Homo sapiens: one gene and its partners. The protein of the gene in region 1 purifies or fractionates together with the protein of each later gene. This does not show direct contact. Each region holds a gene or a part of one and is shown in the gene's direction. Other genes may lie near its edges.

Region 1 (3,500 bases):
AAATCTCATAGAGATGCAGTTCCTTTCTAGATTCATGTGCTCTTCCCCATCTCTCTCCCCAACACTGAGACACACACGCGCAAACGTACACTCACACACTCACACTTACTTATTTATATTTCTCTTGCTAAACCATTTGAGAGTTGCAGACATCATGACACTTTACTGCTAAATATTTCGGCATGTTTCCTAAGACCAAAGATGTTTTCCTACAAAACTGCAAGACAGTTTTCCTCTCAGGAAATTGAGCACCCTTGTCTAATACACAGTTGATATTCAAATTTCCCACCATATACCAACAATGTCTTTTATAGCTCTTGTTTTTTTTTCTGGGATCTAGAATTTAATAAAGGGTCACACATTGGTTTTAGTTGTGGACAGTCCTTCTTTTGAATAATTTCCCTCAATTTTCACTTATGTGATTTTTTCTTCATGAGACACTGATTGAATGTTTTCAGCAGGAAAACTTTACTGGTGATGTTGTGTCCTTTCCAGAGCATCACATCAGGAAGACAGGATGTCACTTGTCCCACTGTTGGTGATGCTAACTTAGCCTACTTGGTTAAAGTAGTGGCATTTTCTTTTTTGTAATTAATAAACTTTGGGGTTGTATTTTGAGAAGATGTGACTATCTGTTCCCCAGTAGTCTTTCACCCAGGGGTTTTAGAATCCTCTGATGATTTTTACAAAATGGTGATTTTAAAAATTCTATACTTCCTTCTTCATTTATTACTTGACATTCTGCGTGATAACTCTGAAGGCCATTGAGCAATAGTAATTATCACATAAATACATTTTGTTTTGTTCCCAAAGTGTCGAATACCCCAAAAATCATGTGTTAACTGAGGTATATTCCATAGGAATTTCAGAGATCTATTTTCATAGCAAAAAGAAACCCCTGTAGTCTTATAAAGATTGTATTTAATAAAAGATACCTCCTAGGGGAGCCCTTGTGTAAAAATAATAACAGTAATAAAAAGAAAGAAGAAAACTTTTAATATATTAAATAGCCTAAAAACCTTTTAGCAAAATGTAAGCAATCAACTATATGTATCACTGGAAATGCAGTATTGTTCAGTATTATAAACTGGAGAGGAGATAAGTCTTTTCTTGCCGAAGGATAATTTAGGACTTTTTTTGTAACCTAAAATGAATTTCAACTGTAACTTCTGACGTGTTTGATATATAGGTGCTGGCATCACGGGCATTCAACGTTTCATCTTCAGTGCCATAGTCAGATTACTAACCCTTTGGGCCTCTGTTTCTCATCTGCAAACTGAAGAGTTGGACACATTATAAAATCCTTTCAGATTCTTAATGTTGGATGATTAAAAACATTTATTATAGGAGTTGGGCTTCCTACTCCCTTTGGCTAAAGAGAGTATTGCTCTAGTTACTTGGTTTACACTCACGTGAATAAATGTAGTAATATAGATGCCAAGGTGAGTAGGAAAGAAGAAAACAAAATATGGACAAAAACCATGAAGCATCATAATAGATTATGGTAGGTCTGTTTCTCTTTCAGGACTATATGCTATGGGAGTTTCTTCTTTTGTTCCATGCAAGAAGATTTTTAAAATAGAGACCTCCCTTGACAAAGAAAATCAGAGATATCCTTATAAACTAGCAAGGGAGAAGAGTTTAATAACCGACTAGCTCACAGTTCTTTTCTGCCCAATGCCTCAACTACTTCTGGCTAGATTCTGACAGCAACTGCTCCTCTAAAAGTCATCAGAGAAGAGAGGATCAGTTTCTACCCTTAGGTACCCGAAGGGAATGTATTCCGCATTCTTTCATATTTCAGCTGCCTCTTTCACTTCTGTGCCCCAGGAAGACTAGAAAACTGGCTCTCTACTTCTTGTTAATTTCTTATTAAATTAAATAGTCAATGAAGGCATTTTGTGCCTGAGCCTTCTGGTCCCCATGAAGAATAAACTCGTGGGAGAGAGAGGAAGGGACTGGATTATTCTGCTGGGTGACAGTACACTTAGGGAAAAAGGTCAAGGAAGAAAAGTCCATCAGGCATTTTTGTTTTAATTTTTAAAATTCCTGTTTAACAATACAGGGTCTCTTGCAACGTGTGAGCTGCCTCTTGCCAAGAGTGAGTGGCAAAAGAAACTAACCCCGGAGCAGTTCTACGTCACAAGAGAAAAGGGAACGGAACCGGTAAGCTAAGCTGGTTTACAGTTTTCTGATTGCATGTGTTGGCAGTGAGGGGCCAGTTGGAATAGGTCCAGCTATGAAACCCAGCTGCCCAGCAACACTCCACAGGCCTGGTCTTCCTCTTCCATTGTGCCCTTCTCGGGGTGTTGATATCCATCGAGTTGTAGAAACCTGAAACTTTTCTCTGGACACAGCATCTCTATTCTGACTCCTAAATAACCTTCCTGTCATTTCACTTCCATGCACCGCTGTCACCTCCCCGTGGGGCCAAGTCACCATCACCTTCTCTGTGCATGGCCATTCTTGCTCCAGCCAACCCATTCTCCACACTGCAGCCAAAGAGTTCTTTGGAAAACACAGATCTGACCATATCACTCCCCAGCTCAAAACCTTTGGTGGCTGCCCAGTGCTTTCAAGGAAAAAGAAAAGTATGAGATGGCTAATAAGGTCCTAACGGCCCCTGGCTCCCACCCCTATCCTCAAATCCAGCCATCTTCCCTCTTGACACGGTACTTTGGCCACACCACCCTTGAGCTCTCACATGCCCTGGGCTCCCTTCTCTTTTAAGGCCTTTGCACCCAGCTTTCCTTCTTCTCTCCCGTCATCCCTCCCCACACTCTCCACCCATTCATTCAGACCTACCTTGTAGCTCTCGGCCCAAATCTCACTTTCTCTGGCAAACCTTCTCCTAGCCCCCAGCTAGGGTTGCTTCTAGCAGAACTCTTCCTTCATAGCATTTGCCATCACTGCTGTAACCCCTGGCACCTAACGTGGTGGCTGGCCTAGTAGGCATCCGAAAAATCAACTTTTGTGAATGTTGAATGACTGCCGGGTAAGAGGTGGAAACATTATTTAAACTGCATTTGGCAATCTCAGCTTTCATTCATTTTCTGAGAGAACAACCCTCAGTGGTTCTTCATTATAACACCACTTTTTACAGTGCTACATTTATCTCTCTCTCTCTGTGTGTCTGTGTGTGTGTGTGTGTGTGTGTGTGTGTGTATACAAGTTTCTGGGGTACTTGAGAAAATTTGTTACACATATATAATGCATAGTAATCGAGTCAGGGTATTTAGGGTGTCTGTCACCCGAATACAATACATTTTTGTTAAGTGTCATCCTCCTACTCTGCCATCAAACACTGAGTGTATTCCTTTTCTCTTACTGTATGTTTGTGGACTTTAAGCCACTCCTCTTCATCCTCCCCCTACCCCCTGCTTTCCAGGGTAGGAAACCCCCTTTCCAGGCTCTGTTATCCATTTTTCCACTCTCTACCTCCATGTGTTCAAATTCTTTAGCTCTCACATATAAATGAGAACATAGTGCCGCGTTGCTTA
Region 2 (4,167 bases), on another chromosome or scaffold:
GATTACAGGCGCATGCCACCATGCCCAGTTAATTTTTGTATTTTTAGTAGAGACGGGGTTTCATCATATTGGTCAGACTGGTCTTGAACTCCTGACCTCAGGTGATCCGCCCGCCTGGGCTTCCCAAAGTGCTGGGATTACAGGTGTGAGCCACCGCGTGTGGTCATCTGTAGCTCTTTTGTACGACTTTTACTAAAAGGACCTGGGCAGATATATTAGTTCACTCTTGTTCTTGAAACCTATTTTGTTGGCATTATGGAGAAATTATTGCTGGATGTTACACAGTGTGGAGAAAATTGAATAAAAGTTCACTGGGAAGGGTCATGATCTATTTTGGCCATTTAAGTATGTGAGGATATATTTATCTTTATGAAAATAAATTTGAAAGTAGAAAGAAAAAGTTACTCATAATACTACTAGTTTAACCCAACGGTTACAATTTTATGTCCTCTTCTGATCGTTTTCTGTAGGCATATTTTACATCATTATAATTTGAATGTCCTTATTGTTTTGTATTATTTGACTTTTTATGGCAGCTTACTGTCGCCTTGCTGGGATTCACCATAATTTACATAATCTAGCCAAATCATGGGGAGTATGGATTTTGGAGTAGCAAGAGATTATTTTTGGAGTTAGATTTTATAAAGCTTTGGCCATCTGCAAAAATTTGAACCGTATCCTAAAGACAAGAGAAAGCTTTGAAGGTTTAAGGGAAAGGATGGACAGAGAGAATCGCATTTAAGCTCCATTTGAAGTAGAGTTATTTTTATTTTTTGTATAATTCCTTGCTTTTTGGAATGTGTGTGCTTCATATGCAGAAAAGTAGTTTCCCGATCTAGACTGCCATCTCTTTGAATTCCACTGCCACATCTGTCTCTCTTAGTTTTCTGTGTATTTTAGAGATTCCGTCAGTTTAACCTGCCTGGCTGACAGGTGGTGTCCCAAATCGAAACCGTTTTTTCCCCCGAATAAAGTGTGCCCGTGTAGCTGTACAGATTTCGTCCCCTGAAAATTCATCTGAAATCTCAATTCTCCTGAGGGGAGCAATTAAGGAAGATACATGAACTCTCCCCTCCTCTCCATCCTGTCAGGTGCCCCTCTTTTTTGATGGCCCCACCTCTGTCTAGACAACCCTGACAGTGTAGAAGTTTCCATCTCCTTTCCCTTTCCCTCTCCATGTTCCCTCCCCTTCAGTTTTTTCCCCCTCCCAGGCGCTTCCTGCCTGGAAACAAAAGATTGGTCCCCAGTAGCCCACTCAGGGCGATTTTAGTTTTATGCTCACCATCTGATTGGCCTAGGTAAGGTGCAGAGCTCGGGTGACGTAATAGCAGAGAAGGGCTAGGGAGCGGTTGCCGAGCAGGGGCTCTACCGCGGGCGGGCAGCTGTGCCAGCTAACCGTCTGGGATCTCGCACTGGGGGCTGCAGCTTTTCCCCGCCTCGAGCCAGTGTGCGGGGGCGGGAGAAGAGCCAGGGGGAGCGGGCTGGGCCCGGGGCTGCGGCTGCGGCCGCGGGGCTGCGGCTCCCCAGCCCCGCCAGCTGGAGCGCTCGGAGGTAGAGGAAAGGTCTTGACGGGGTGGCTGGATCCGTGGCAGGTAAATCCCGCGACTAACTGCACCCGGGCTACCGCGGGGGAGGGGGTGGCTGTTGGATGATGCTTTAAGGCTGCTGGGCAGATGTTCTGCCTTTCCGGACCCCCCTCCTGTCCTGTTTGTGCCCCAGCCTCGAGTCTCCTACGTGGCTCCCCGGAGCCCTGAGACCAAGCGAGCAGTTTGCATGATCCCAGTTCGCGGACAAGTGGGTGTGTCAGGGCCGTTCCCAGAGGGCCGGGGCTCCTTCGCTTGGTCAAACCCTAGACTCGTTTACTGGGGCCTGGGCCGCTTGAGGCAAAACCCGCCTTGAAAGCTACGTCAGCCTGTAAGTCTTCCCTTTCACCCCCCCGCCCGCCCCCCTACCCAGCCCCAGTAGCTGTGACAGCAGTTCCCTAGAAAAGGGGAGGGGGTGTGGCCACGGTCTGGCCAAGTCCGGGGTAGAACCCCCCCGCCCCTTACACACACACACACACACACACACACACACACACACACACACGAGGAAAGAGAAAAAGTGACGATTTTCTTAAACGGGCGCCTTCCCCTCTTTCTTTTATTTTTCTTTATCCCCCTCCCCTTTTTTTGGTGGGGGGATGGTAATAACAGGGGGACCCTTTTCTTCTCCTGTGGGGATTGGAATGATGCAATAACGCCCCCAGAAAGCTCAGGGTCCCTGGATTGGCCCTCTCTTTGTCTGGGGAGCAGTGTCATTGGGTCCACTGCCTCTCCTTCTCTCCTGTTCCCCTTAGCTCGCTGGGGGACATTGCCCTCAGTTTGTGAACTGGCTCTGGCAAGATTACTGCCGCACTTTTGGGTGAACTGAACATTTTAGATTCTTACTCTGGCAAGTTTTCCTTCCCTAGGTGGTGGTTAAGGGGTGGGGTGGGGTGGGGGATGGTGGGAAGAGGGGGATGCAGGCAAGGAGAGAGATAGAGGCCCCACTTGTTTTTTTTTTTTTTTTTGGTCCCACCTTTCAGAATCCAGTTCCAGATTCTAGACTTGAGGGTTCTGGGCTGTTGGTCTGTAGAAGCGAAGGAGAGAAGGGTGAGTGGCTTGGCTTTGGGAAGCATGATGGGGGCGGTTGCAGTGCTATTTTTAAAAAACGGCTTTCAGCAGGGAAGCCTTTAGCCATGTTAGTCTTGCTCCCCTCATGGTTTTGCAGACTCAAATCCAGGCCAAGTGTATGGCTGTCTGAGGTATTGGAACAGAAGGAGGTCCATTCCTGTTGGTGACAACACCGTGGCCCTGTTCTGGGATGAGCAAGGTGTAAAGGTCAGTGCGGTTTTCACTGGGCCATTTGCAAAATTATAATTGGGCAAGATCTGTGATTTGGTACTTGAGGCCTCCAATCAGGGGCAACTTTGGGCAAAAAGACTTGATATGGTAATGAATGACTAACAGGCAGAGGCTTGGAGAGAGAGCCATTTGTAAGCCTCTGTTTCTGGATACAAGTGTCATATCCCCCAGCCCATGCAAGAAGCAAAATGGGAAGAGACTAGGAGGTAGCCTGGGCAAGAGCTGACAGCTGAGAATCCTGAGGTCAGAGAGACCTTAGGATGTCAAGGAGCTGACCCTGCAAGTCTCCGGACAGGCAGCTGGGCCTTGTAGGAGAGATCTGACAGGAAAAGGAGGTTCACATGCAATAGGGTTATAAGCTAGGGGACACAGGACCCTAGGGACATTCTCACCAGCTAACCATTCCCACAGGTTGCAGAATTTCCTGGTCAGAGGTGGAAATGGTATATAGGGCAAACAAGTTTGCTGAGGTCTTGGGAGAGGGTGAGTGGTGGACATACCAGGTGAGGGAAACGAGAAATAAAAAGAACTGCAGGGATGGGAAGGTGCTGACATCCGAGAGTTTGCTATTATGTGTTCAGAGACTAAGCTACTAAATTAAGGTTAAAGAAGGTGGCCAAGGCAAAAAAAAAAAAAAAAATCAGGTGTACAGATCAGATGTAGTAGGCAGGAAGGCAGGAGCAAACTAGAGAGAGAGAGAAGAAAAGTCGTGGCCTTACCAACAACCCAAAAGCCCTGAATTCTCTGGTGAGATAGGCAACTCTGGAGGTTGAGGCAGCTGTAGCTCAGCCAAGAATTAGAAGGATGATTCTAGATATTTAAAATCAACAGCATCCCCACCCACGTAACCCACCTTCAGGAACCAGTAGCTTTAACCAAGAGAACAAGAAACTCAATGAGCAGCAGCCTCAACAACTGGCTCTTTCCTCCTGGGTAAGGAGAGGGCAGTGGGGAAGGACGGTGCCTCAAAGGGAAGTGGAGGCGCTATCAATCTGGCCTAGACAGGTAGGTTGACTGCTTTTACATGGGTGGGCTGGGGCCTGGTCTGGGACCCCTGCTCAAAAAAAAAAAAGAAAAAAAGCCCTCCTTCTCAGGATCCCTGGGGACCCTGTGTGCGCAGGGAACTGTGTAAAACCTTTACTTCGGAAGGTAAGTGCAGCGTTCTAGGCATCTGGGGCGTACTTAAGCCTCCGCTACGCGTCCCCCACCCCCACCCCCACCTGCCGGGGGCTAGGCGTTTCCCTCTGCAGGGCCTGGAATGGACTCGTCTGCCAAGTCGGCA
Region 3 (3,500 bases), on another chromosome or scaffold:
CACTGAGCATTGTAAAGGAAGTGTTGTATAGCTGAAAATTCAGATTTTAAGTATGAATTTTATCAGACACACCTTCACTATCTCTTGGCTGTGCAGCCTTCTAGAGGTCACTACACTCTCGGCCCCCTCTTTTCCTCATCTCTAAACAGGCAAAAGAATCCCCGTTGGTCTCCCAGGGCTCCTGAGTAAGAGAGTAAGATCCAAATTCATGCCTTGGTTTTCTTTCTCACTGCTCGTGTGCATGGAACCAAGTTTGTTGCCTTCTTGGAGCCTCAGTGTTCTCATCTGTAAAATGGGCGCATGTGTCACGGGGATGTGTTGCTCCTGGCAGTAGCATAAGCAAAGTCCTTAGCATAGGCCCCTGTTCCCATTGCACACCCCGTATAATAGTGATCACCATCCATGATTATTGTTATCATCATCAACAACAGTAATAATCACTGTTTGCTCAGCAAGCGTATAGGCGTCTCAAAGGCCAGATTCATCTCTCTGTTTTAGCTTGAATTGGAGCTTCTTGAAAGAAGGAAATTCGGGTGGGAGGAGTGAAGGATTGATTTTTTTTCTCTTCCCTAAAGGGGATACTTGATAAAGGCCTGTTGAAGACGGACGCCTTGTAATCTTGTTTTTCATCCTTCTCTGGGCTCTCAGATGGATCAGGTCCTTTTGCTTCAGTAGAACTTTGGCAATTAAGTCTTTGATAGTCTTAAAATGGGTGATTGGCCTCACCAGGCTGAAAGAAAGGCAACTTTGTTAGCCTAGGATGCATGAGGTTGAGAGCAATATTTTTTTTTTCCTCTCCTCCTTTTCTCTTTCTAGAGGCAGTGAAGGTTTTGGGGCCCTACAGCCTGGGTTCACATCCTGGCTCTGCCACTCACTAGCTCTGTGCCCTTGGCCAAGATACTTCCTTTCTCTTTGTCTTTCTCTTCATCTTTCAAATGAGGACTAACAGTCGCCACCTGGAAGTGTTGCTGTGACGATCAACCCAGAGGTTGTATGGAAAGTGCCCAGCAGAGAGCATGGCACCTAGAGGTGCTCAGCAATGTCTGTTTCTTCCCTCAGCCCCTGGTGCTCTTTCTGTCCCTCCCCTGGTCCCATCATCTGTCCCTGCATCCAATGTCTTACCCTCCCCTGACAGAGCTTCAGTTTCCTTTGGGAATAGAGCCCTTGGCTGGCAGGTCATTCCTGGATTAAACTTGGAGCCTCCAAGCTTTATGAAGTCCAAGTGTGCTATTTTAAACCAATTGTGGACTTTTGTGTGGCGCTTCCGCTGAATGGAAAGATAATTGTACCAGAGCTTGTCGAGAAGAGTACATGGACGAGTCATGGAGCTTACATTCTGTCCCATTGATTTTTTTTTTCCTTCTTTTGGAGGACTTACTAGCTGCCATCTGCTCCTTGAACATCGTGTTCATAAATATATAAATAATCGAAGTTGATGAGGAGGTTTGCTTAAAGAAGTGTTGCTGAGAGTGATTTTTATAAATATTTAAGATAATCTGAAATCATTAAAGGAATTGCGGGGTTTATTAAAAAACTGAAGACGTGTTTTGGAAAGGATCCTTTTCTTTACAAGCTGAATAAATGTCAAGAGTAGAGAAATGAGGGAAGAGAGCTTTCTGAACGTGGACATGGGATCCGTGTGGGTGAGTGGGCAGCCAGTCTGTCTGACTCTGCCAGGCCTCAGCGTTCTTTTTTTTTTTAATTATTTTTATTTTTATTTTTAGTTTTGAGATGGAGTCTCGCTCTGTCGCCCAGGCTGGAGTGCAGTGGTGCGATCTCGGCTCACTGCAAGCTCCGCCTCCCGGATTCATGCCATTCTTCTGCCTCAGCCTCCCGAGTAGCTGGGACTACAGGCACCCGCCACCATGCCTGGCTAATTTCTTTCTTTCTTTTTTTTTTGTATTTTTAGTAGAGATGGGGTTTTACCGTGTTTGCTAGGATGGTCTCAATCTGCTGACCTTGTGATCCGCCCGCCTCGGCCTCCCAACGTGCTGGGATTACAGGCGTGAGCCACCATGCCCAGCCTAATTTTTATTTTTTGAGATGGAGTCTTGCTTTGTTGCCCAGGTTAGAGTGCAATGGCATGATCTCAGCTCACCGCAACCTCTGCCTCCCGGGTTCAAGCGATTCTCCTGCCCCAGCCTCCCGAGTAGCTGGGATTACAGGCGCGTACCACCACACCAGGCTAATTTTTGTATTTTTAGTAGAGACAGGGTTTCCCCATATTGGCCAGGCCGGTCTCGAACTCCTGACCTCAGGTGATCTACCCACCTCAGCCTCCCAATGTGCTGGGATTACAGGCATGAGCCATTACGCCTGGCCGCCTCAGCGTTCTTGAAAGCTTCCTGGGCTTCCTTGAGGGTCGGAGAGGGCCACTGAGTAATGTGTGCCAGGAGTCCCCCCGGGGAGCACACATTTCAGATTCTGCTTGTGAGAGTCAGTGGCGGGCTTCTAGAAGGTTCCTAAGGCAGATCTCTTTTGGTTAATGATGGGCTATGTTTTAGTGAGACCTGCTAAGGCCATAGTTCCGGAGGCTTCTAGGTGGTAGAAGCAAGGGAGGGAGGAGTTGGAAGAGAACTTTCCAAACTTGAGTGTGCTGCGCATCACGTGGGGATTGCCTCGGAGGTTCTGAGCAGGGGCTGGGGCAGGGTGAGATGCTGCATTTTGAACACTTTTGCACATGATGCGATGCCTCTGGATTGTAGACCATACTTTGAGTGCAGTGGGCCAGGAGATCATCCAACCTGACCCTCTCCCCTTCATTCATTCAGGAGCCAGGCTGATGCTGATGGTGCAAATCTCTACATGACCCTGGAGGTTTCCAAGTTAGCTTAGAGGAGGAGGCATGCATGCGAAAACACACATATGACAAAGTGACAAAGGCCTAGGATGGACCTCAGGACAGGTGACAGTGGGAGCAGGAAGGGGTGGGAGAGAGACCACCTCTGTCTGCCAGCAGGTGCTGAATAAGCCCAGGAGGGCCTAGATGCTGTGAGCCATTGAGATGGGGCTGCCTTCAGGGAGCGGGGGAGGAGAGGCAGTGTGAGCTGAAGGACTGAGCAGAAACCCCATACTCAGAGTTTCAGGCCTAAGCATCCAGTACTCTAATTTTAACACACAAGGGAACTGGGACCTCCTGGGGGGAAGCATCTTGACCAAGAGGCACAGTCAGGACTGGAACCTAGGCCTCTGGCTCCTGAGCCTGGTTTTTGCTCACCGCTCCACAGTGCCACCCTCTGCATCCACTGCTGTGTTTAGCAGTAAGGCTGTGAGAGCAGGAGGATGCTGAGGACTTTCTCTAGTTCAAAATGTACCTCTGCCCTTGACCTTCGTTCATCAGGGGACTAGGCACTTAAATCCACAGTGAAAAAGAAGGCCCAATGTGGGAAAAGTGACAGCTTTGAAATCAACATAAACCATGCCAGAGACTAATCCTCTTTCTGTCTTTTCCCCCTCCCAGCACCAGCATCCTTTGATAAGAAGGTGGGGGAAGGACAGTG
Region 4 (3,500 bases), on another chromosome or scaffold:
TCACTCTCATCACCATCTTGGTTTTGGTGGGTTTTGGGCCACCTTCTTTACTGCAACCTGTTTTATCAGCATGGTCTTTATGACCTGTATCTTGTGCCGACCTATCTCATCCCATGACTTAGAATGCCTTCACCGCCTGGCAGTGCAGCCCAGTAGGTCTCAGCCTCATTTTACCCAGCTCCTATTTAAGATACAGTTGCTCTGATTCAAATGCCTCTGACATTTCTACTTTTTGTGCCCATTAACCATTCCCATCTCCCCCTCGCCCTCGACTACCCTCTCCAGCCTCTAGTAACCATCTTTCTACTCTATCTCCATGGGCTCAATTGCTTTGTTTTCTGCTTGTTTATTTGTCTGTTTTTACCTTTTTTATTGCTCCCACAGGGGAGGCCCCCTCCAAAATGTCAATTTGCTTTAATTTTTAGATCCCACAAATAAGTGAGGACATGTGATATTTGTCTTTCTGTGCCTGGCTGAATATAATGACCTCCAGCTCCAACCATGTTGTTGCAGATGACTGAAACTCGTTCTTTTTTACGGCTGAATAGTACCCCATCGTGTATATGTACCGCATTTTCTTTATCCATTCGTCTGTTATGGACACTTAGGTTGCTTCCAAATCTTGGTTGTTGTGAACAGAGCCGCAACAAACACGGGAGTGCAGATATCGCTGCGATGGGCTGATTTCCTTTATTTGGGTATATACCCAGCAGTGGGATTGCTGGATTGTGTGGTAGCTCTATTAGTTTTTTGAGGAACCTCCAAACTGTTCTCCATAGTGGTTGTACTCATTTACATTCCCACTGTGAACCCTGAAAATTTGAGGCAGGTCTCAGTTAAATTAGAAAGTTGATTTTGCCAAGTTGGGGACACGCACTCGTGACACAGCCTCAGGAGGAACTGATGACATGTGCCCAGGTGGTCAGAGCACAGCTTGGTTTTATACATTTTAGGGAAACCTGAGCCATCAATCAACATACGTAAAATGGGCCGGGCACAGCAGCTCAAGCTGTAATCCCAGCACTCTGGGAGGCCGAGGCGGGTGGATCACTTGAGGTCAGGAGTTCGAGACCAGCCTGGCCAACATGGTGAAACCCCGTCTCTATTAAAAATACAAAGCTTAGCTGGATGTGGTGGCGCATGCCTGTAGTCCCAGCTGCTCTAGGAGGCTGAGGCATGAGAATTGCTTGAACCTGGGAGGCAGAGGCTGCAGTGAGCCGAGATCGAGCCACTATACTCCAGCCTGGTCAACAGAGTGAGACCCTGTCTCAAAAAAAAAAAAAAAATGTAAAATGAACATGGTTCAGTCCGGAAAGGCGGGAGAACTTGAAGGAAAAGCAGGACAACTCAATGCAGGCATGAGGCTTCCAGGTCATAGGAAGAAAAGAGACAAATAGTTGCATTCTTTTGAGTTGATGATTAGCCTCTCCAAAGGAGGGAAGCAGATATGCATTAATCTCAGTGAGCGGAGGGGTGACTTTGAATAGAACGGGAGGTGGGTTTGCTTTAAGCAATTCCCAGCTTGACTTTTCCCTTTAGCTTCGTAATTCTGGGGGCCTAAGATATTTTCCTTTCACACCACCAGCAGTGTACGGAGGTTCCCTTTTCTCCACATCCTCGCTAGCATTTGTTATTTTCTTTTTTTTGGATAAAGCCATTTTAACTGGGGTGACGTGGCATCTCATTGTAGTTTTGATTTGCAGTTCTCTGATCAGTGATGTCAAGTACCTTTTCATATGCCTGTTTTGGGTTGAGTACCTTTCATATGCCTGTTTGCCATTTATATGTCTTCTTTGGGGAAATATGTATTCAAATCTTTTGCCCATTTTTAATTGGATTACTAGGATTTTTTTCCTATAGACTTGTTTGAGATCCTTATATTTTCTGATTATTAATCTCTTGTCAGATGGCAGTTTTCTTAGTTTTTTGCCATCATGGTTTCAGAAAGATCAGAGTCCAATCTCAGAACACCTTGTCATTTTTCCTGCATGGATTTCTCATCTTTATCCACTATTTCTCTGAAATCATTCAGCTTGCTAATGTTGCCCCCAGTGGTTTTTTTTTTTAAATAATATTGGCCAGGTACGGTGGCTCATGCCTGTAATCCCAGCACTTGGGAGGCCAAGGCAGGAGGATCACTTGAGCCCAGGGAGTTTGAGACCAGCCTGGATAACACAGTGAGACTCTGCCTCTTAAAATAATAATAATAATAAAAGTATTGATGGGGGCTGAGCGCGGTGGCTCACGCCTATAATCCCAGCACTTTGGGAGGCCGAGGTGGGCGGGTCACCTGAGATCAGGAGTTTGAGACCAGCCTGGCCAATATGGTGAAACCCTGTCTCTACTAAAAATACAAAAAAAAATCACCGGGCATGGTGGTGCACACCTGTAATCCCAGCTACTTGGGAGGCTGAGGCATGAGAATCACTTGAACCTGGGAGGCAGTGGTTGCAGTGAGCTGAGATCGTGCCATTACATTCCAGACTGGGCGACAGCACGAGACTCTGTCTCAAAAATTAATAACAATAATAATATGATGGGAAGAGAGAGTTGGGAGAGGGCTGAAAAATTACTTTTTGGGCACTGTGCTCATTACTTGGGTGATGAGATCAATCCTACCCAAAACCTCAGGGTCACACAATGTACCCATGGAACAAGCCTGCAGTGTACCCCCTGCATCTAAAATAAAAGTTGAAATAAAAATGATAATAATATTAGGAGGCTGAAGTGGGAGGATTGCTTGAGCCCAGGAGTTTGAGGCTACAGTGAGCTTTGATTATTCCACTGCACTCCGGCCTGGACAACAGAGTAAGACCCTGTCTCAAATAAAATAATAATAGGCCGGGCATGGTGGCTCATGCCTGTAATCCCAGCACTTTGGGAGGCCGAGGCGGGTGGATCACGAGGTGAGGAGTTTGAGACCAGCCTGACCAACATGGTGAAACCCCGTCTCTACTAAAAATATAAAAATTAGCTGGGCACAGTGGCACGCGCCTGTAGTCCCAGCTACTCAGGAGGCTGAGGCAGGAGAATTGCTTGAACCTGGGAGGTGGAGGTTGCAGTGAGCTGAGATCGCGCCACTGCACTCCAGCCTGGGCGACAGAGCGAGACTCCGTCTCAAAAAAAATATAATAATAATGATAATAATAGTAATACAGTAGCCTCCAGCACCTGGGCTCTGGGATGGCTGGGAGGTGCTCCTTGGGGAGCCCCTGCTGACCCGGCTCCCTCGGGGCACAGCCTTCATCCTCCCCAAGGCAGAGGTGTGCGTGCGGAACCATGTCCAGCCCTACATCCCATCCATCCTGGAGGCCCTGATGGTCCCCACCAGCCAGGGCTTCACTGAGGTGCGAGATGTCTTCTTCAAGGAGGTCACGGACATGAACCTGAACGTCATCAACGAGGGCGGCATTGACAAGCTGGGCGAGGTGAGGCCGGCACCGCCCCTAGGAGGGGGTCTCCTGAGAGTAGGTCTGGTCTGTCCCAGAGGGCCCCGGCTG

The links.
Region 2: the proteins of MSRB2 (region 1) and PAK3 purify together in Homo sapiens (affinity purification with mass spectrometry; one large-scale study listed by BioGRID and IntAct). This does not show direct contact.
Region 3: the proteins of MSRB2 (region 1) and CYRIB purify together in Homo sapiens (co-immunoprecipitation; one large-scale study listed by IntAct). This does not show direct contact.
Region 4: the proteins of MSRB2 (region 1) and NIBAN2 purify together in Homo sapiens (co-immunoprecipitation; one large-scale study listed by IntAct). This does not show direct contact.

What each region holds. Positions count from the first base shown.
Region 1 is NC_000010.11:23,102,079-23,105,578, forward strand, and holds part of MSRB2 (methionine-R-sulfoxide reductase B2, mitochondrial precursor), read left to right. Parts: intron 1-2,065; coding exon 2,066-2,166; intron 2,167-3,500. UniProt on the Homo sapiens protein: Methionine-sulfoxide reductase that specifically reduces methionine (R)-sulfoxide back to methionine.
Region 2 is NC_000023.11:111,094,824-111,098,990, forward strand, and holds the start of PAK3 (serine/threonine-protein kinase PAK 3), read left to right. Parts: upstream 1-1,367; 5' UTR 1,368-1,592; intron 1,593-1,719; exon of another isoform or gene 1,720-1,914; intron 1,915-2,566; 5' UTR 2,567-2,633; intron 2,634-2,751; 5' UTR 2,752-2,861; intron 2,862-4,167. UniProt on the Homo sapiens protein: Serine/threonine protein kinase that plays a role in a variety of different signaling pathways including cytoskeleton regulation, cell migration, or cell cycle regulation.
Region 3 is NC_000008.11:130,010,061-130,013,560, reverse strand, and holds part of CYRIB (CYFIP-related Rac1 interactor B), read left to right. Parts: intron 1-2,240; exon of another isoform or gene 2,241-2,905; intron 2,906-3,500. UniProt on the Homo sapiens protein: Negatively regulates RAC1 signaling and RAC1-driven cytoskeletal remodeling. Regulates chemotaxis, cell migration and epithelial polarization by controlling the polarity, plasticity, duration and extent of protrusions.
Region 4 is NC_000009.12:127,510,074-127,513,573, reverse strand, and holds part of NIBAN2 (protein Niban 2), read left to right. Parts: intron 1-3,240; coding exon 3,241-3,428; intron 3,429-3,500. UniProt on the Homo sapiens protein: May play a role in apoptosis suppression. May promote melanoma cell invasion in vitro.